2 linked regions of the Homo sapiens genome follow. The protein of the gene in region 1 interacts with the protein of each later gene in a pairwise test. Each region holds a gene or a part of one and is shown in the gene's direction. Other genes may lie near its edges. The genes, in order: RASGRP4 and TMPRSS4.

What was found.
Region 2: the proteins of RASGRP4 (region 1) and TMPRSS4 interact in binary tests that used the Homo sapiens proteins (3 or more experiments, as listed by UniProt).

The regions. Positions count from the first base shown.
Region 1 is NC_000019.10:38,414,515-38,425,500, reverse strand, and holds part of RASGRP4 (RAS guanyl-releasing protein 4), read left to right. Parts: intron 1-3,347; coding exon 3,348-3,532; intron 3,533-4,300; coding exon 4,301-4,406; intron 4,407-4,530; coding exon 4,531-4,593; intron 4,594-5,238; coding exon 5,239-5,370; intron 5,371-5,487; coding exon 5,488-5,641; intron 5,642-6,936; coding exon 6,937-7,110; intron 7,111-8,332; coding exon 8,333-8,449; intron 8,450-10,377; coding exon 10,378-10,653; intron 10,654-10,986.
Region 2 is NC_000011.10:118,106,315-118,117,300, forward strand, and holds part of TMPRSS4 (transmembrane protease serine 4), read left to right. Parts: intron 1-1,459; coding exon 1,460-1,561; intron 1,562-2,541; coding exon 2,542-2,582; intron 2,583-3,737; coding exon of another isoform or gene 3,738-3,919; exon of another isoform or gene 3,920-4,083; intron 4,084-5,426; coding exon 5,427-5,586; intron 5,587-6,954; coding exon 6,955-7,121; intron 7,122-7,608; coding exon of another isoform or gene 7,609-7,736; exon of another isoform or gene 7,737-7,751; intron 7,752-8,514; coding exon 8,515-8,613; intron 8,614-8,823; coding exon 8,824-8,966; intron 8,967-10,986. UniProt on the Homo sapiens protein: Plasma membrane-anchored serine protease that directly induces processing of pro-uPA/PLAU into the active form through proteolytic activity.

The DNA.
Region 1 (10,986 bases):
CCCCCAGCACCACTCTGATGGGCAAAGGGCTTTCCTCCCCACCCAGCAGTTTAGTGGTAGACTCCTGGCTGCCTAATTTCCTAGCTGTGTGACCTTAGGTAAGTCACTTAACTGCTCTGTGTCTCGGGTTTTTCTTCTGTCAGTAGAACAATCATATCCTCTACCTCGGAGAGGCCTGTAAGTACTCAATGAGACACTCTAGACCAGTGGTTCTCAAACTGGAGCGAGCCTCAGAACTGTCTGGAGGGCTTGTAAAATACAGGTTGCTGGGCTTACCTTTAAAGTGTTTGGTTTTTTTTTTTTTGTTTTTTTTTTTTGAGACGGAGTCTCGCTCTGCCGCCAGGCTGGAGTGCAGTGGCACAATCTTGGCTCACTGCAACCTCTGCCTCCCGGGTTCAAGCGATCATCCTGCCTCAGCCTCCCAAGTAGCTGGGACTACAGGTGTGCACCACCACACCCAGCTACTTTTTTGTATTTTTAGTAGAGATGGGGTTTCACCATGTTGGGCAGGATGGTCTCGATCTCTTGACCTCGTGATCCACCCACCTCGGCCTCCCAAAGTGCTGGGATTAGAGGCATGAGCCACCACCCTTAGCCTTAAAGTGTTTGATTTTGTAGGTCTGGGTTGGGACCTGAGAATCTGTATTGATATCCAGTTCCCAGGTGATGCTTTTGGTACTAGCTGGGTGCCCACACTTAGGGAAATGCTGACTTAGTTAGAATGCTCCTTCCTTAGCCTAGGACATATATAATACTTTAAAATGTCCCTTCTAGTAACGATGGCTCATGCCTCTAATCCCAGCACTTTGGGAGGATAAGACAAGGAGAACTTGAAGCCAGGAGTTCTAGACCAGCCTGAGAAATATAGTGAGACCCCCCCCCCCATTGACACACACCCAAACACACACACAAAATTAGCTGGGTATGGTCGTGCACACCTGTAGTCCCAGCTACCTGGGAGACTAAGGCAGGAGGATCACTCGAGTCCAGGAGTTCAAGGTTACAATGAGCTTTGATTGCACAACTGTGCTCCAGCCTGGGAGACAGAGCAAGACCCTGTCTGAAAAAGGGTAGAGGTGGGAGCCTGGCGTGATGGCTCACACCTGTAATCCCAGCACTTTCAGAGGCAAAGGTGGGAGGATCAGTTGGGCCCAGGAGTTTGAAACCAGCCTGGCCAACATGGTGAAACCCCATTTCTACTAAAAATACAAAAATTAGCTCGGCGTGGTGGCACGTGCCTGTAGTCCCAACTACTTGGGAGGCTGAGGCAGGAGAATTGCTTGAACCCGGGAGGTGGAGGTTGCAGTGAGCTGAGATCGCACCACTGCACTCCAGCCTGGGTGACAGAGTGAGACCCTGTCTCCAAAAAAAGAAAGAAAGAAAGAAAAAAGAAATCCCTGGAGAAGGTCCAAGGACTATCCTCATTTTTCCTTCGAGGAAATTGAGCCCCAGAGAAATTAAGTGACTAACACGAAGTCACAACAGCTGGCAAAAATTTCTGGATTCTACTTTCGTCTGAAGCTTGGATTCAGCAGCCTCCCTGCTCCCACCATCCTTGTCTCTCCATTACCCTCTTCCCCTATCAGGAACAGCAGCCTCTGGGAGGCACCAGGCAGAGGGAGAATTATTATTACTATTATTACTATTATTATTATTATTATTTTGAGACTAAGACTCGCTCTGTTGCCCAGGCTGGAGTGCAGTGGCACGATCTCGGCTCACTGCAACCTCCGCCTCCTGGGTTCAAGCAAGTCTTCTGCCTCAGCCTCCTGAGTAGCTGGGATTACAGGAGCCCACCACCACGCCTGGCTAATTTTTGTATTTTTAATAGAGATGGGGTTTCACCATGTTGGCCAGGCTGGTCTCGAACTCCTGACCTCAAGTGATCCACCCACCTCAGCCTCCCAAAGTGCTGGGACTACAGGCGTGAGCCACTGTGACTGGCCTCTCTTTTTAATTTTTTTATTATTATTTTTGAAACAGAAATCACTCTGTCACCCAGGTTGGAGCACAGTGATGCAGTTCCGGCTCACTGCAGCCTCCACCTCCTGGGTTCAAGCGACCCTCCTGCCTCAGCCTCCTGAGTAGCTGGGATTACAGGCGCCCGCCATCACGCCTGACCAATTTTTGCATTTTTAGTAGCGATGGGGGTTTCACCATGTTGGCCGGGGTGGTCTCGAACTCCTGGCCTCAAGTGATCCACCCACCTTGGCCTCCCAAAGCTTTGGGATTACAGGCGTGAGCCATCACACTGGTCCAAGAGCCTTGCTCTCTTGAGGGCTGTGGGAGGAAGGAGGGGAGGGTGTTAGAGACCAAACGGGAGCCCTGAGGAGGCAATTCCTGAAGGCAGGTCCTCCCATGCCTCTGCCTGGGGAGGACAGAAGAGATTCCAGGGGTCTTCTCCCGAGTCCCTGGTAGGCCAGGAGTAATCCTGGGATCTGCCAAAAGGAAGTCTCTTCCAGGATGCCCTGGAAGCAGTCAAGAGGAAGTTGGGGGCAATGCCTGGGGAAGGAGTTCTTATGATTCCCTGAGGGGTCTTGAGTGGTCCCAGGGGTCTTCTACTGTGATTCCCTGGGAGATTCAGAGCAGTCCTGAGCGGCGGTCCCCAGGCTTTTTGGCATCAGGGACCAGTTTTGTGGAAGGGGGTGGGGATGGTGTGGGGATGATTCAAGTTAATTACATGTATCCTGTGCTTTATTTTTATTATTATTACATTGTAATATATAATGAAATAGTTACGCAGCTCACCATAATGGAGAATCAGTGGGAGCCCTGAGCTTGTTTTCCTGCAACTGGATGCTCCCATCTGGGGGTGATGAGAGACAGTGACAGATCATCAGGCATTAGGCATCAGGCATCATAAACAGCACGCAGCCTAGATCATCAGGCATCATAAACAGCACGCAGCCTAGATCCCTCGCATGTGAAGTTCACAATAGGGTTCATGCTCCTAAGAGAGTCTAATGCCCCAGCTGATCTGACAGGAGGTGGAGCTCAGGCGGGGGTGCTTGCTTGCCCGCTGGTTCCTAACAGGCCACGGACTGGTACCTGTCTGTGTCCCAGGGGCTGGGGACCCCTGGTCTTGAGGATCTTCCTCTCTGATTCCCTGAAGGGAGCAGGAATATCCCTGGGAGTTTGCTTGTGGGAGAGGGCTCCCATGATTCCCCCAGGGATCTGGAATATTCCTGGGGATTCTCTCTAGAGTCCCTGGTAGGTCAGGGGTAACCCTGGGGCTTTGCCTTTAGGAAGCCTCTCCCGTGGTGCCTTGGGGCATTAGAGTCAAAAGGAATTCTAGGGTCTGTCCGAAAGAAGGTGCTCCCATGACTCCTTGGGGGCTGTGCCCACAGGAAGTCCCACCAGGAATGCACCGGAAAAATAGGAGGGCGAGGCCGGCCCCGCCAAGTGCGCCGCCACAAGACATGCCCCAGCCCTCGGGAAATCAGCAAGGTCATGGCTTCCATGAACCTGGGCCTGCTGAGTGAGGGCGGCTGCAGCGAAGATGAGCTGCTGGAGAAATGCATCCAGTCCTTCGGTAAGTGTCCTCTCCCCAGCAGCCTCCCTGGCCCTAACCTCGGGCTCAGCACTCGCTTCTCTCCACCTCAGTTTTTGGAGGTAAAATGAGAACAGGGCTGGGTGGAATGAAACTCAATCACTACATTAGAGATAACAGAAACACCTGCATTTCTTCTTTCCTGAAATGGAAATATATACATTTATATATATATATAATATATGTGTATATTATATATATTTATATAAATCTTTTTTCTTTTCTTTTCTTTTTCTTTTGAGACAGAGTCTCGCTCTGTTACCCAGGCTGGAGTGCAGTGGCCTGATCTCAGCTCACTGCAACCCCCACCTCCTGGGTTCAAGAGATTCTCCTGCCTCAGCTTCCCGAGTAGCTAGGATTACAGGCACATGCCACCAGGCCCAGCTAATTTTTGTGTTTTTAGTAGAAACGGTGTTTCACCATGTTGGCCAGACTTGTCCCGAACTCCTGGCCTCATATGATCCGCCCGATTCAGCCTCCCAAAGTGCTGGGATTACAGGTGTGAGCCACTGTGCCCGGCCAGTCTGGTGCTATTTCAATCTTCAGCAAGACTTGCCAGGGGTGATGCTGCCCCATGCACAATACAGATAAGGAAACTGAGGCACAGGAGGTTAGGTTGCCTGTCCAAGGTCATGCTGGGGATCACCGTTAGAGCTGGTCTTTGAACCAGGTGGTCCGGCAGGATCTGGAGCTACGCTCTGCATTGCTTGAGGGCCATTCTGTCACAGAGTACCCCTCCTTCCACCCCAGATTCAGCTGGCAGCCTGTGCCACGAGGACCACATGCTCAACATGGTGCTGGCCATGCACAGCTGGGTGCTGCCGTCCGCCGACCTGGCTGCCCGCCTGCTGACCTCATATCCTCCAGGACTGTGAGCTATGGGTGGAGGGCAGAGGGCAGAGTCGTGAGAACCTGGGCAATGGGAATGGGGAGCAGGCAGGTCATGGATCCTGGAAAACAGAGCCTTGACCAGAACTCAAATACCAGAAGGCCACAGGGGACACCCAGGAGCTGAGACGGCTGCAGATCTGTCACCTGGTCAGGTAGGGCTGGGCCGAGATCCCCACTCTCAGGACCCACGACTTCCATCCTGCTTCCCCCTCAAAAAACATTCCTCAGAGAATCCCCAGGCCAGTTCCCACAGACCCAACCAGCCCCACAGGCCAAAATCCCACTTCTGAGACACCTGTAGCTTGGTTCCTAAGACCCTCTTAGTTCCGTTCCTTAGAACCCCCACTTCCTAGAGACCCCCCTCACCAACCAGATCCCATAGACCCTCCTAGCTGGTGCCCAGAGACCTCCAACTCTGATCCCCAAAATCTCTACCTCCCACAGACCCCAGCCTAGCCCATAAGACCCCCTCATTCTGTCCCTCCAAAAATTTCACCCCCGGAAGCCCCCAGTCTAGTTCCTAGGACGCTCCACGATCTTGCTTCCCAATAATCCCACTTCCAAGTGACTCCCCGGTCTGTTTCCCACAGATCCCCCCAGTCTCTGTTAAGAGACCCCCATCCTACTCCAGAGATTCTCCAAGCCTGGTGCCCCTCCAAACCCCAACCCTCCAGGGACCCCCACACACATTTAGAGACCCCCTAGCTCAGCACCTAGAAATTCCTCAGCCCAAAATACCCCTTGTAGAGACCTTCGCCACCCCCGGCCTCATCTCACCATCTCCAAACCACTCTCAGGTACTGGCTGATGCGACACCCTGAGGTGATGCACCAGGATCCCCAGCTAGAAGAAGTCATAGGTCGTTTCTGGGCCACCGTGGCCCGGGAGGGCAACTCAGCCCAGAGAAGACTGGGAGACTCTTCTGACCTGTGAGTCAGCCCTGTGCTCCCCTCTTCCCTGCCCCATCGCCATTCTGCCATCTCCCTCTATATCCCCAAGCCCTCAACTGTGAGCCACTCCAATACCCTGCCCCTCTTGGCCCCCAGCCTGAGCCCTGGTGGCCCTGGCCCCCCACTCCCAATGAGCAGCCCAGGCCTGGGCAAAAAGCGCAAAGTGTCCTTGCTTTTCGACCACTTGGAGACGGGGGAGCTGGCTCAGCACCTCACCTACCTGGAGTTCCGGTCCTTCCAGGCTATCACGGTGAGGACCCCCTCCCATCCCCGTCCCAAGCAGGGGAGACACTGGGGTAGGGGAGGGATTGGCTGGGGGAAGGTAGGACTGAGAGGACACCTGCATGGTCATTCGGCAGAGATCTCAAAGTCTTAAACTCAAACCTGTATGCTAGAAGGTCCAGGAAAATGAGTTAAAGAGGCCAAGGCAGGCAGATCGCCTGAGGTCAGGAGTTTGAGACCAGCCTGGCCAACATGGTGAAACCCCATCTCTACTAAAAATACAAAAATTATCCAGGTGTGGTGGTGCATGCCTGTAATCCCAGCTACTTGGGAGGGTGAGGCAGGAGAATCACTTGAACCTCAGGAGGCGGAGATTACAGTGAGCTGAGATCACACCACTGCACTCCAGCCTGGGCGACAGAGCGAGATTCTGTCTCGAAAAACAACAACAACAAAAAAGTAAAATAAATAAATAAAAGGCTTATTGCAGCGACTGGCACTTAGTAAGTGCTCAAAATATTTTATCATTTATTCAACAAGCATTTAAATTCATGGTGCCTCAGTTTCCTCATCTGTAAAAAGGGGATATGCACAGTTCCTGCCTTGCAGGAACAGTGCCTGGTCCAGGGTAAATGCTATCTGCTTGAACCATTTGAAATTGTCATATATTACCTACCCAAGGATCAGTTTCATGTGCTTCAACATATATATGCATTAGCTTTTGCCATCTGGACATCATCATTTCAAGGGAAGGTGGGGATCTGTTTCCTTCATGTGAAACTGTCCCGATTGTATGTGTGTGTTGTGTGTGTGAGTGTGTATGCAAATATACTCAGTGTAGTGGATGTGGGTATGAAATGAACACTCCTTGGGCAGAACAGATAGAGGTTGATTTCAATTCATCTTCCCCAGCCTTCCCTTTGCTTACTGTATACCAGTCAGGTGTACAGTTAAGAGCATATAGACGCCCACCCTGACTCACACCTGTGTGACCCTGGGCAAATTACCTATCCTCTATGTGCCTCAACTGTCTCACCTCTAAAATGGAATGATACTCACCTCATAGAGTTATGAGGATTAAATTATTTAATATGATTACTTGTCAAATATAGTGCCTGGCTATATTGAAACATGCCTCCTCAGATGGGAGAGGAGCATGGTGACGTTAAGGACATGTAGCAGCCTGAGGGTTGGGGGACAGATGACAAAGGTCACTCCGGCTAGACCAGGCTAGGACATCAGAGATCGTGACTGCTAGTTGGATGCCATGGAAGGGCAGGGCCTGAGCGCCACGGCCCACCTTGACACCCACCTCGCTCCCAGCCCCAGGACCTGCGGAGCTACGTTTTGCAGGGCTCAGTACGAGGCTGCCCGGCCCTGGAGGGCTCCGTAGGTCTCAGCAACAGCGTGTCCCGCTGGGTGCAGGTGATGGTGCTGAGCCGTCCCGGGCCCCTACAGCGTGCACAGGTGCTGGACAAGTTCATTCACGTGGCACAGGTGAGGCCCGCCCCTTGGGGCTGCGAACTCCACTGCACGCAGCCACCTGGTCCTTCCCCTTCCAGACCCTCGACCCCACAGGGTCATCCCGGCGGTGACGTCACGCATCTCCCGGCCCCGCCCCCGAGGCCACAGCCTGGGCATTCCAACCAAGGACCGTAACTTCTTCTTTGGCCTTGATGTCACCGCGTCGCACCCACCGTGGCCCCACCCCTTGGCCCTAGACGTGACAGGCTCCCAAGCCCTATGCCCGAATATTCTATCCCCAGGTCAATGAGAGTGTCTCTTCCATGCCCCCACCTTTGTGGGGCATGGAAGCCCGAGGCTTCAATCCCCAGTCCCCAGGCCCCAGCGGTCGCTTCGGGATTGTGCATCGCTCCCCATTGCGTCCGGGCTCTCCCCGCCCCGCCCCATTGTGTTACGCCCTTCTCTTCCCCTCCCTTCCCCCTCCTTTCCGGACACCTTCTCGCCCTTCTGGGGAAAAGGGAAGCCCTACGGCCCCGCTGTGGCCGCGCCCCCTTGCGTATTTCCACGCAGACCACGCCCTTCCTCTGGTGTCTTCCCTGGCTTGCTTACTCCTGCAGGGCCCCTGAGACCTGGGGGTCTCGACGTCCGCCTGGGGTGTCCTTAGTCTGAGCATTTTCCATTCCTCCCTGGCCCCACTCTCTCCACAGCAACCTCTGCCGAAATTTGTCAAAAGGAGGGCAAGGGAATTCCCCAGCTGCCCTGGTGGCCCCACACCTGTCTAGCATCTGTCTGACTCCTCCATATCTCTCTGGCCCTATTCACCTCTGCCTGGCTCCCAGCTCCTGCCCAGAGCCTGCACCTTCTTGCCTCCCCGCACCTGTGTGACTCTCAGAGCAGTCAGACCCCCAGATGGCTGACACCCTGACATGTCTGAAGCCTCCTCCACCTGACACACACCTGTCTATTCCCCAAATCCGCCCAACTTCTCGTACTTCCTGTCTCCCCAGATTTTCTAACCTCGTATCAGTCAATCACTTGCTTGACCCTCCCGGCTCAGATAGCCATCTGACACCCCTGTGAGGCCCACACATGGCATGTCCCACTCTTGCCGCACACACCCGCCTTCTCTCACCTGTCTGATCCCCACATTGGTCCACACATGCCTGGGACCCCACCTCAACTGGGATGCTGTCATCTGAACTCCTGACTTGCCCTCCCTCCCGTGACGGCCCTGTGTGCATGCTTCTCTTCCTAGAGGCTCCACCAGCTGCAGAATTTCAACACGCTGATGGCAGTCACAGGGGGCCTGTGTCACAGTGCCATCTCCAGACTCAAGGACTCCCATGCCCACCTGAGCCCTGACAGCACCAAGGTGAATCCCACTACCCTCCCCAAAGCTCCAAGTGGTCAGCTGTCTTGAGCCCCCACACCTAATTCCCCAAGCCCTGTCCATTCCTGCCCAGGGGTCCTGGTACCACATGAAGTCCTTGCTCCTCCAAATCCCAGACCCCCAGGCTCTGCCAGCATTCCTCCTCCCTGTCATCCATCCACTCATGGTGCTGATCCCTCTCTGCTTTCAGTGTGTCTGGTCCGGAGCTGGACTGTGAGGGAGACAGATGGGAGACAGGCTAGCAGAGAACTTTGCAGTCCCCATGGGGAGGACTGGCTGAGGTCAGAAAGTGGCAGGAAATTAAGCCGAAGATGCCCTGGGAAGATCCTATAGCGCCTTGTAAGATGGGCTAAGCTAGGGAAGTTTTGAGAGTGATGACACACCCTTGATAAAATCTGGGTTTTTAAGAAATAATTATAGGCTGGGTACAGTGTGGCTCACACTTGTAATCCCAGCGTTTTGGGAGGCCAAGATTGGAGGATCACTTTAGCCCAGGTGTTTCAGACCAGCCTGGGCAACATAGCGAGACCCCATCTCCAGAAATTTTTTTTTTTTTTTTTTTTTTTTTTTGAGACAGAGTCTCGCTCTTGTCGCCCAGGCTGGAGTGCAGTGGTGCAATCTCGGCTCACTGCAACCTCTGCCTCCCGGATTCAGGTAATTCTCCTGCCCCAGCCTCCCGAATAGCTGGGATTACAGGGGTGCACCACCATGCCCTGCTAATTTTGTATTTTTAGTAGAGACAGGGTTTTACCATGTTGGCCAGGCTGGTCTCAAACTCCTGACCTAAGGCGATCCACCCACCTTGGCCTCCAAAAGTGCTGGGATTACAGGTGTGAGCCTCCGCGCCTGGCTGAAAAAAAATTTAAAAATAAATTAGCCAGGGATGGTGGCCCATGCCTGTAGTCCCAGCTACTTGGGAGGCTGAGGGGGAGGACTGCTGGAGCCTCCCCCTCAGCCTTTTCATTGTTGTTTTTTGAGACAGAGTCTCACTCTATCTCCCAGGCTGGAGTACAGTGTCGAAATCTTGGCTCACTGAAGCCTCCACCTCCCAGGTTCAAGCGATTCGCCTGCCTCAGACTCCCGAGTAGCTGGGATTACAGGCCTGCACCACCAGACCCAGTTAATTTTTGTATTTTTAGTAGAGACAGGTTTTTACCATGTTGCCCAGGCTGTTCTCGAACTCCTGACCTCAGATGATCCGCCTGCCTCGGCCTCTCAAAATGCTGGGATTACAGGTGTGAGCCACCGTGCCCAGCCATCAAGCTCAGGAGTTTAAGGCTGCAATGAGCTGTGATCATGACACTGTACTCCAGCCTGGGTGACAGAGTGAGACCCTAGCCTAAAAAATAAATAAATAAAAAGGCCGGTCTTGATGGCTAACGCCTGTAATCCCAACACTTTGGGAGGCCGAGGCAGGCAGATCACCTGAGGTGAGGAGTTTGAGACCAGCCTGGCCAACATGGTAAAACCCTGTCTCTACTAAAAATACAAAATTAGCCTGGCGTGGTGGCTCAATGCCTGTAATCCCAGCTTCTTGGGAGGCTGAGGCAGGAGAATCGCTTGAACCCAGGAGGTGGAGGTGGCAGTAAGCCGAGATCACGCCACTGCACTCTAGCCTGGGCAAGACAGCAAAACTCCATCTCAAAAAAAAAAAAAAAAAAATCAAAAAGAAAGAAAGATAAAAGAAATCATTTTAGCCAAAGAATGGGGGATTGTGGAACTTCTCTGAGATGGGGACCCAAGAGGAAGAGCAGTTTGGGGGAGATGCTGAGACCGGCATGGGATATGGAAGGGCTCCAGAGGTTTCCACAATGCCACTGGGTCCCTGAAGGCCTAGAGCCCACACAGGAGGCTGCTCAGGGGATGGGACTGTCCTGATAACGCCCCAATCCCATGTCCCTCCTCCCCAGGCCCTCCTGGAGCTCACTGAGCTCCTTGCCTCCCACAACAACTACGCCCGCTACCGCCGCACCTGGGCTGGCTGCGCGGGTTTCCGGCTGCCTGTACTGGGCGTGCACCTCAAGGACCTGGTGTCCCTGCATGAGGCACAGCCCGACAGGTTGCCTGACGGCCGCCTGCACCTACCCAAGCTGAACAACCTCTACCTGCGGCTGCAGGAGCTGGTGGCCCTCCAAGGGCAGCATCCACCCTGCAGCGCCAATGAGGATCTGCTGCACCTGCTCACGGTGAGCCCCCCTGGCCCCGCCCAGGCTGGGCTTCCAAGGGTACTGAGATATAGGGTCCTGGGTGTGTGAGTGTCTCCAGGACCAGGATAGAAAAGTGCTGGAGTGCATGGGTTTTGAAGCCAGAACTTCTAGGTTTTTTTCTAGCTGCGTGATCTTGGGCAAGTCACTGAACCCTTAAGCCTCAGTTTCCTTATCCACAAAATGGGAATAATAAAAGGACCCAGCCGGGCGCAGTGGCTCACGCCTGTGATCCCAACACTTTGGGACGCTGAGGTGGGCAGATCACCTGAGGTCAGGAGTTCGAGACCAGCCTGACCAACATGGAGAAACCCC
Region 2 (10,986 bases), on another chromosome or scaffold:
TTGGTGAACAGAAGTTAACTTTCCTGGGAATGTCCATTTCCACCATATTCCGTCCTTCTAGGTCTCAGACTTCTCTACTTTCTTTCCTCTCTCTAGATCGGAGGCCCTTCTTGTCCTAGAACCATAGGCATTTCAAGATGTGGGAGACCCTAGGGATCATCTAGTCCACGCATCTTTTTTTTTTTTTTTTGACAGAGTCTCACTCTGTCACCCAGGCTGGAGTGCAATGGCACCATCTCTGCTTACTGCAACCTCCACCTCCCAGGTTCAAGTGATTCTTTCGCCTCAGCCTCCCAAGTAGCTGGGATTACAGGCACGCACCATCATGCCCAGCTAATTTTTATATTTTTGTAGAGACCGAGTTTCACCATGTTGGCCAGGCTGGTCTTGAACTCCTGACCTCAGGTGATCCACCCACCTCGGCCTCCCAAAGTGCTGGGATTACAGGCGTGAGCCACTGCACCCAGCCCCGTGCATCTTTTTATAGAGGGGGAAACTGAGGCTTGGAGAGACCCAGAAAAAGAATATGACCTGCCCAAGGCCACACATCAAACTAGTGCCAGAGCCAGGGACAGAACCTAGATCATGAGGACTCTTAAAATGCACTCTAGTCCTCCCAGGTCTGAGACTTGGGTCCTTCCAGGAAGTGCCAGCATTCCTGCCTGAGAATGTGCCAATCCACCAGTATTGCCAATGACTCAGCCCTCCATGGAGAGCTTCTACTAACATTACTAGCATAGTTAGGGATGGAAGGAAAAGATTTAGAAGAGGCAGATTCAGTAAAGGAACAATCAGAGAGATGGAATTAATCAAGGAAGGCTTCCTGGAGGAGGAAAAACTTCAACCCAAGGTTTGAAAGTAGCAAGCATGGATTAGCAGGGAGAAAGAGGGAGAGTGGTCCAGTTGAGAGAAACGTTTGTCTGGATTCATATGAAGACAGATCTAGTCCTGTTCTATTAAATATCTCTAAGGGGGCCAAAAACATACCCCCGCTATCAAAGTCAGACCAGATGCTTTGTTTGGAGAACGAAATATCCACATTCCAACTCCCTCCCAGGTGAGAAGGGAGCTAACCTGAGCCCCTATGCCTCTTTGTTTCCCTGCTGTGAACCAGAAGACATTGCTGGGATATTTGAAATAGGGACAGAGCTGGGAATATGGAAAGGAGACCCCTAACATTTCTCCAGGGCTCTGGGTTCTGGATTTGGATTCCCCACCCAAGAAAGCAAGTTACATCAGCAATGCACTGAGGGTTGAGTCCTGGGATGCCAAGGGTCGGTTCTTTATTGTATAGCAAAGCAGGCCCCATCTTCACTGACTAAGACCATCTCCACTCCCTGGCCACTCCCCACCAAGCATTCTCTGCCACTCTTTCTCCTGAAAGTGGGGGCCAACTCTACCATCTTGTTCTAACCCCCTGCCCCAGCTCACAACTCTCTCTCCCTCTTGATGTGAGCAGCAAACCCACTTTCAGAGCTGTGGAGATTGGCCCAGACCAGGATCTGGATGTTGTTGAAATCACAGAAAACAGCCAGGAGCTTCGCATGCGGAACTCAAGTGGGTAAGTGAGGGGACACCTTCTGGCCTACAGAAGGCCCCCACATGGACGCTGCTCTTCAGGTTGCAACCAGCTCACCTGGAACCCCAAGCAGCCAGGGGAATGTAAGCAGACATCAGGAAGAACTCCTAGCCAGATGGATCATTCAATGCCAAGAGCTATAGACTCACATTTTGGAGAGGTTTTCTGTGTTGACTTGTTTTTAATACAATGGACAGCTGGACAAAGTGTGTTGTCCTACTCAGAGCCAGAGGGATGGATAATGTGACCTTTCCATCAATCTGGATAGTAAATAGTTTTTGCTACTGCTGTAGGTTTTCTAATAAATTGCCCAATAGGCAAGATTCCAAAGTCACTTTGTCCTTCCCTACCACTTACCCAGCCAGAGCTCCCCACCTTCTTGATGCTCCAGGGAAGAGGCTCCATGGCCCTTGTGGGTGGCCTGTTCCTGAGCCTCGCCACCCTGTGTTAGAGCAGAGCATCCAGATGAAATCTGTCACACTGTGGCAAAGTGGCTCAGAGAGGAGGCTGGCTTCCTAGCATTCAGGGACGTTGCTGAGGGCCGCTTATTCACCGAAAATAAATCTTGAAAAGGACAGGGCTGGTAGCAGAATGATCCTTTACCTAAAATTCTATCAAAATCCCATTCTTCCATTTGGAAAGCCCACAGTGTCACAGACTCTGTTCCGGGCTCTGTCCTCTTCCCTCTTGGGTCCCAGGAGCCCAGGCTGGGCTTTGAAGCAGGCAGGGCCCAGCACACAGTAGGTACTCAGCAGTGGGGGTGTTGAATCCAATCAAACGGAAGTGTCAATGCAGGAAATGCAATGGATGTCAATGCAGTCTCCAAATGTTCCCCACTGTGCAGCTTCCACATTCCCGAGGTATTGGGAGGGGACTTGAATTAACAGCTTCGGGAGGCCTGAGTCCCTGCCTCCCAGCTGAGGAAGAAGCTTAAATCACAGGGCGCTGTGTCTGTCTTCCAGGCCCTGTCTCTCAGGCTCCCTGGTCTCCCTGCACTGTCTTGGTGAGTACCCCCAATCTCTGAGGGTTTGGGGCCTGGGCCAGCAATGAGCAGGGAGGAAGACCTTCATCTTCACTCCTAAATTTCTGGGACTCCAAGTTTCATTCTGCCTTGGTCTACAGCCCTTGGGCTTGTCGGTCAATGCCCCCTCGAGTTGTTGGTGGCCTTGGGCAGGTCACATTCTTTTTCTGGGTCTTTCCAAGCCCCAGTTTCCCCCTTCTACCATCTGTGCATGGCTCCATGACCTAAGTGGAGACCTGGGAGAGAGTGTTAGGAAGACCGAAAAGGGCAGGACGGGGCCTCCACTGCCTCCCATCCCTGGTCCGGGCCCACATAGCCTTCTTTGTCACAATCAGCTCAGGTATCCAAGATCAGATTACCCACATTCATTATTTGAGCAACTATTCATTGAACAGTTAGAATATGTCTCACTCTGTCAGTTGCTGGCTAGAAGTAGAAAGTACCAGATGAGTGAAATAATTGGCCACTATCCTTGGTAGCTGATGACTAAGTAAGAGAGAGATGCAAGACAACATGTGGAAAATGCCAAACTGAGTAGCAGTCACAGTTGACATGCTGCAGAGAGAGCTGGCCGGGGGTCAGAAGACCTGGGCACCAGTCCTGTTCATTTCCAGTGTGGCCTCGAGTCATTCACCTGACCTCCCTGAAGTTCATTTTCCCAAGAAGTTGTTTAGTCCAACTGCCCATCAAGGATCTTTAGGGACCCTTCTAGCTCTAACAGAGGAGATCAGAAAAGAAAACAAGCAATGTGGCTCAGCTCATCCTACAAGCTTCATAGAGAACTGAGACTGGCCTGGAAGCATAGCCAGAAATTAGAACGCCTAAGGGAAGAAGGTCACAACGCTGCCTCTGCAATTTAGGAGTGTATATGCTTTCCTGCAGGATGTTGAGAGTTTCATTCATTATCGTATGCCCCCTACCCCGGCCCCACAATACCTAGTGCGTGGGATCTGACACGTGGTGGCTGGTCAATGAATGAATGAATGAATGGTCACACCATCTGAGGTTCTGCACTGAGTAGCCCTGAAGGCTTGAAGCAGCATAAGTGACAGGTCCTCCCTTGAGGGGCCTCTGTTTTACCAATAAGCCAAGACCTAAGCTCAACAACACTGAAAGGGTGGCCAATACCCAGGACAGCCTGTGGGAATTCCAGAGAAAGGGAGATTCCCAGGGACTGGGGGCCCAGGCTAAACACTGAAAAATGCATCTGTAGGCTCAAGGAGGAAAAGCCCATGTCTGTCTGTCTTGCCCACCACTCTCTCCCAGCACCCAGCACTGCCCCAGGACAGAGAGCACTTGACACAAGTTGGTTAGATTAATGAATGATTTAGAGTTCAGTGGTCCCCAACCTTTTTGGCACAAGAGACTGGTTGCATGGAAGACAATTTTTCCGCAAACCAAGAGGGGGATAGAGAGCATTAGATTCTCTCTTTTTTTTTTTTTTGAGACCAAGTCTGGCTCTTGTCACTCAGCCTGGAGTAAAGTGTTGCGATCTCGGCTCACTGCAACCTCCGCCTCCTGGATTCAAGCGATTCTCCTGCCTCAGCCCCCTAAATAGCTGGGATTACAGGCACCCGTCACCAGCCCAGCTGGGACTATAGGCATGTGCCACCATGCCCGGCTAATTTTTGTATTTTTAGTAGAGACGGCGTTTCACCATGTTGGCCAGGCTAGTCTCGAACTCCTGACCTCAGGTGATCTGCCCGCCTGAGCCTCCCAAAGTGCTGGGATTACAGGCATGAGCTGCCTCACCCAGCCTAAAGTCTCATAAGGAACGTACAGCATAGATCCCTCACATGTGCAGTTCACAATAAGGTTGTGCTCCTACAAGAATCTAACGCCACCTCTGATCTGACAGGAGGTGAAGCTCAGGTGGTCATGCTCGCTTGTCCCTGCCACTCACTTCCTAATGTACAGCCAGGTTCCTAACAGGCCACGAACCAGTGGGAAGGGCATCTTTTTGGATCAAAAACAGAATTACTTTTTAGAGAACTACAAGCAGATCAATTTGGCTAGACAGAGACTTTATATGAAACAGCAGGAGGCTGCTAGGAGGAGTGGAAACTCTACTTTGCCCTCAAGGGAGATCCCGAAGGGCTTTGCAGGAGCGGGCAAGGTGGCATGAAGAAAGCAGTGTTTGAAATCAGGTGGTATTTGAAAAGCCCAGCCCTTCCCCTTAGAATGGCCCTTCTACCATCTGTGCATGGCTCCACAACCGTGGTGGTGGCTGCCAGAAGAATTGGAAAGGCAGAGCATGGGTGGAGAGGGGGGACCTGAGGGCTTTACAGGAGTTCCGGGGGTGGTGAGGGTGTGAAAGCCAGGTCAGTCAGTAGGAAGACAGGATGTCAGATTGAGAGACTCCCCTGGCCGGGGAAACAGACTTGGAGAAGGGGGAGTTTTGGATGAGACAGTCCACTTCCGAGTCACAAAATAGCTTGTGGGTGTCTGTTTACTGTTACTCAGTGGGAGTGGCTGGGGACACGCCACCTGGGCAGGGCTTTCGTAATTCTGCATCACTTGTGAAGGTCACAGATTCCCAGCACAACGGACACACCCATGTTCATAGTCTGAACTCCTAAACACATCTTAAACCAAAATAAAAAAAAAAGAAAGAAAGAAAGAAAAAGGAGAGGGAGGTTTGAGGAAAGCCTATGGTCTGGGACACTCAATACCTCCCATGAATATCTCATATTGGGCTGGTCCTCTCTCCACTCTGGCCCCAGCCATAAGGGCCCTGCTTAGAGCAGATTTTGGGTGCTGAGTGGAGGCAGCCTCATCCCCAACAGCCTGACTTCCTGCCTCCTCCCTGCCTCTGCCTGTGTCCAGCCTGTGGGAAGAGCCTGAAGACCCCCCGTGTGGTGGGTGTGGAGGAGGCCTCTGTGGATTCTTGGCCTTGGCAGGTCAGCATCCAGTACGACAAACAGCACGTCTGTGGAGGGAGCATCCTGGACCCCCACTGGGTCCTCACGGCAGCCCACTGCTTCAGGTAAGACCCCAGCTGTAAGGAGGTCTCTGGGGACCAAGGCCAGTCAGGGACCAGAGAGCTTGGGGTCCTGTCTCCTGGCACCGTCCTTCTCTTCACTCTCCCACTAGAGACGTTTTCCAGGTTGTGGTGGCCCCAATGAGACAATGGCCATGATGCCCTTTGTTAGGCTTTTGGGTGTCTGAGCAGAGGGTGCTGGTCACCAAGCATGGCCTCTTCCTGGTGGGACACCAGCAGATACCCAGAGTCCTCACCCCACCCCCATATCGTTCAAGCTACAAAAGCTCTTCCCACCTGCCTCAACTTCCAAGAACTCACTCTCTTTTTGCTTGTTTCCAGGAAGTTGTTCCAGGGTCTAGAGTCATAGCCACGTCCTCATTATGTCTGGAAACTTTAAAAAAATTAAAGAGCATAGGTTCCTTTCAGTCCACAGAGAAGCCTGGCCTTACCTCAGGGAAGGGCTACTCCCAGACCCCCTTCACTTTTTTTTTTTTTTTTTTTTTTTTTTTTTTTGAGACAGAGTCTTGCTCTGTTGCTTAGGCTGGAGCGCAGCAGCATGATCTTGGCTCACTGCAACCTCCGCCTCCTGAGTTCAAGCAATTCTCCTGCCTCAGCTTCCCAAGTAGCTGGGACTATAGGCATGGGCCACCATGCCCGGCTAATTTTTGTATTTTTGGTAGAGACAGGGTTTCACCATGTTGGCCAGGCTGATCTCTAACTCCTGACCTCAAGTGATCTGCCCACCTCAGCCTCCCAAACTGCTGGGATTACAGGCATGAGCCAGGGCATCCGGCTTTTATTTATTCATTCATTCAATATCTAATGAGCACCTACCAGGTACCAAACACCAGATGATGCGCCCAAGTTCATTAGACCCCACCGCTGTCTTCAAGGCACTCATGATCTAGGCCAGCGTTTTTTAACCACTTTTTTTTTTTTTTTTTTTGAGATTCTGGTGAGAGCTATAAATTCTTTCCTGGAAAAACATCTCTGCACACTAAGCTGTGCCTGGCATTGGGAAAAAGAAAGCACGTAATGTAACTGACAGCATGAGTAACACAGTGAGAAAGGTTGGAGGAGAGAGCGCCAGGACCTCAGAACTCAGGCATTAGAGGAGCCCCTTCCCCAGCCCTCCTTGAGGTTTCGTTGGGCAGGTTTCACTGAGGAAAAAGGGTCAAATCCCTTTTTCGAATTTGACTTCTTGTAAGTGCCAGAAGACTGCCCCTTCTCCACCATCCCTGCCTCACCATCATCTTTCCTCCCAAGGCAGTGACATCCAGCACCCCGATCCCTAGGGCCCTGGGGACCCAGCCTTTGGCAAAGTCTCCTCAGGCTTGGATCAGGCCTGAACCCAGCTGTCTCTACCCCCAGGAAACATACCGATGTGTTCAACTGGAAGGTGCGGGCAGGCTCAGACAAACTGGGCAGCTTCCCATCCCTGGCTGTGGCCAAGATCATCATCATTGAATTCAACCCCATGTACCCCAAAGACAATGACATCGCCCTCATGAAGCTGCAGTTCCCACTCACTTTCTCAGGTGAGAAGCAGGGCCCAAGGCCACTCAAGCCTCTTACATCAGTTTTCACGCCCACTCTGCTATTAGCTCACTGACCGCCCTTGGCACATAATGTCTCCTCTCAAGTCCTCAGCTTGCCCATTTGTCTCTAATACGTCAGCCTAACATCACTGATGCCATGAGGCCTCCTCAAGCTGTCAGCTAACACCTCCACTCCATTCCCTGCCAGAGATTCTTCCAAGGCCTGTCTTCCCTATGTGGAGCCCCTCGAGTGAGAACTGGAGTTTCATCCAATCTTGGAGTTTTAGGAGACCTTTTAAAAAGATTATCGAGCTAATTCCCCACCACTGACCAACACGCAAGAGCCTGCTCAGTATCCCTGCCAAGGAGTCATTGTGCCCCTGTTTGCTCTCCTCCAGGGGCAGGGAACCCATTACCTGTGAGGCAGCCCACAGAGTCTTTGAACAGCTCTGTTGGATGCCTTGTGCTTATACTGAAATGTATTTAGATCAGGATTCCCAACTGTGGGGTCCACAAGACACTGGCCCCTTGGAGAAGAGAGGATTCCATTGTCAAATAAGTTTGGGGAACATTTTCATACTACAGCTCCCTTCTTGGAACACATTAGTTTATTAAAGGTAGGAGAAGTTTTTAAAATAATCTGTTTTATTGCGTTTAACCTACATTTTTTAAATTTATTTGACCACAGAATCCTTTTTTCATGCTACTTCTATTAGCATCCCATAGAACAAGTGTTCTAGAGACCCTGGTGTGACCCCTTTCAGAGAGCTTAACTGCCAGGCTCTCCTGAGCCCTGGTGTGTGTTTCAAGATTTGTGCCTGGGAATTGTTTTAATCAGGTATGGCAAGGTGACAGATACAGACACAGCTATCTTTGAAAGAAGAGTTTATTATTTATAATTCCTGAGAGAAAGGGACATACCCCACCCCCCAACACAGGGACACCCGGGGAAGCAGCTGGGTCCACCAGGAGGCAGGAGTGAGGGGAAGGCATGGCCCAGAGCCACCTGTGGCTTCCATGGGCAGGTCTGGCCAAGGTAGGGTAGGCAAGATTGAGCATGCTCAGGATTGGATAGTGTGGACAATTCTCTAGGCTATAGATGTCAGCCTCTGGTTGTCTAGTATCTGTCCCTGGGGTGATTTAGGGCAGGGAAAATATTGGCTTGGTGTCTGAGAGTCAGATAAAGGAAGTGGTTGGGGATATGGGCTTTGGGTTGGCTGGTTTGCCTATTAAAGGCGTGCCCAAAGCCAAGTTGTTTACTATCTGCAGGAATTAGCTAACCCAGTCTCTCCCAGACCAGCAAGATCCCCATAATCATAAAGCATCATAATTTACAGAAAATTAACACTTATGATGAATAAAAGATCTCCTTCTTCCTCTGTGCTCCTGGCAGGCACAGTCAGGCCCATCTGTCTGCCCTTCTTTGATGAGGAGCTCACTCCAGCCACCCCACTCTGGATCATTGGATGGGGCTTTACGAAGCAGAATGGAGGTAAGTCCTGGGTGCAGGACCACAGGGCAGGAGATGCCCTTGTATGAGGGAGCAGCTTCCAGAAGTAATGGGAAGGAGGACCACCCTTCAGAGAAACCCATCCTGGAGGACCAAGCACCAAGGCGCCAGGCAGAAAGCAAAGTGGTTTGGCAATCCAGGGCTGGGGGATAGAAGGCAAGGATGGGAATGTGAGTGTTTTTACCCTCCCAGGGAAGATGTCTGACATACTGCTGCAGGCGTCAGTCCAGGTCATTGACAGCACACGGTGCAATGCAGACGATGCGTACCAGGGGGAAGTCACCGAGAAGATGATGTGTGCAGGCATCCCGGAAGGGGGTGTGGACACCTGCCAGGTGGGGCCTCCAAGAATCATGGGGAGTTCTAAGAATAGGGTTTAGGTCCTAGAGAGATGAGAAAACCCAGAGGCTGCATGCCCTACAGGAAGCCTTGCATATCATGGGCACTCAATGTGTGATGATGGGAGGAAGAGAGGGAGGGAAGGAAAGGATAGTCAGATAAAAGTGTACCAATAGATGAGTGGGTGGATGGATGGATGCAGACAAGCAGAGAGATTTCAAATGTCTCTTTCACATTCGAAGATGATGTTACTGGCCTGGCATGGTGGCTCACGCTTGTAATCCCAGCACTTTGGGAGGCTGAGGCGGGCAGGTGATTTGAGGTCAGGAATTCAAGACCAGCCTGGCCAACATGGTGAAATCCCATCTCTACTAAAAAGAATACAAAAATTAGCTGGGCGTGGTGGCACGTGCCTGTAATCCCAGCTACTTGGGAGGCTGAGGCAGGAGAATTGCTTGAACCCAGGAGGCAGAGGTTGCAGTAAGCTGAGATTGCGCCACTGCACTCCAGCCTGGGTGACCCAGCAAGACTCCATCTGAAAACAACAACAACAACAAAGATGACATTACTCATCCACCCCACCCACCCTTCTCACTAGCTACAGAATGATTAGCCCCTTGAGGTCAGGAATCCCAGGTCTATTTTCTCTGTGACTCTCCCCAAGCTGCTGAACTACACTAGGAAAGAATTACCGCCTGCAGAATGCTGGAAGCACATCTGTGTGTGCCCTCACCCCGGCCTCATTGGCCATCAGGACTGCTTAGCAATCCCTGTAGACCTTCTTCCTCCCCCATACTTCCAGAGGATCTTCTGAACTATTTTCTTTTTTTATTTTTTCTTTTATGTTTTTTAACAGAGACAGGGTCACTATGTTGCCCAGTCTGGTCTCAAACTCCTGGGTTCAAGGGATTCTCCCACCTCAGCTTTCCAAAATGCTGGGATTACAGGCATGAGCCATCGTGCTTGGCCTGAACCATTTTCATTAAAACCCCTACCCTACTCTCACCTCCATTTCCAGTCATTAAATTCCTTCATTTAAGAGGCATCTCTTAGTCATCGCATGTGTGCCATGAACATGGTAGTCTTTGGAGACCCCTCAGGGAGCTCACAGTGGTTGGGGGAAAGGGGGGCATTAAACAGACATTTAAGCTATAGTTTTGGGTTCAGAGGGAGGAAGCCCCAGGGGCTAAAACAGCTGATAAGGACTCCCAGATAAGTGCACTTTTCACTATCTGGCATTTTCTTGTTTTGTTATTTGCTTGTTCACTGTCTCTCACCCCATTTGATCCTAAGCTTTCTGAGGGCAGGGATCTTTGTTTTTTTTCATCAGTTGGATCCCAATTGCTTAGAACACTACCTGGCACAAAATAGGCACTCTATAAGTGATTACACAAATTTTGGAACGACTAGGTTAAACAATGATAACCAGGCTTTTTTTTTTTTTTTTGAGACTGAGTCTCACTCTGTTGCCCAGGCTAGAGTGAAGTGGTTTGATCTCGGCTCACTGCAGCCTCCGCCTCTGGGTTCGAATGATTCTCCACCTCAGCCTCCTGAGTAGCTGGGATTACAGGTGCCTGCCACTATGCCCAGCTAATTTTTGTATTTGTAGTAGAGACGGGTTTCACCATGTTGGCCAGGCTGGTCTTGAACTCCTGACCTCAAGTGATTCACCCGCCTCAGCCTCCCAAGGTGCTGGGATTACAGGTGTGAGCCACCGCTCCTGGCCAACAACCAGGCTTTTTTAAGACATCACTCAGAGCCTTTAATTTGCTAATGTGAGTTGTGAATCTCTGAGAGAAGGCTAACGGCATGCTTGCAACTTACTTGTCCACAGACAAGCCTTTCTGCCCCAGAAGAGAAGACCATTCTAGGGTGCTAATGAGCAAAGAGGGTGAGGGTGGAATATCGGAGAGCAGCAGGGAGTGCAGGGGAACAGATAGGCCAGTTCAGGGAGCAGAGAAGGAGAAGCCCCCCCACCTCACCTGCCCTCCCCAGCAGTCTCTGTTCTGGTCTCTC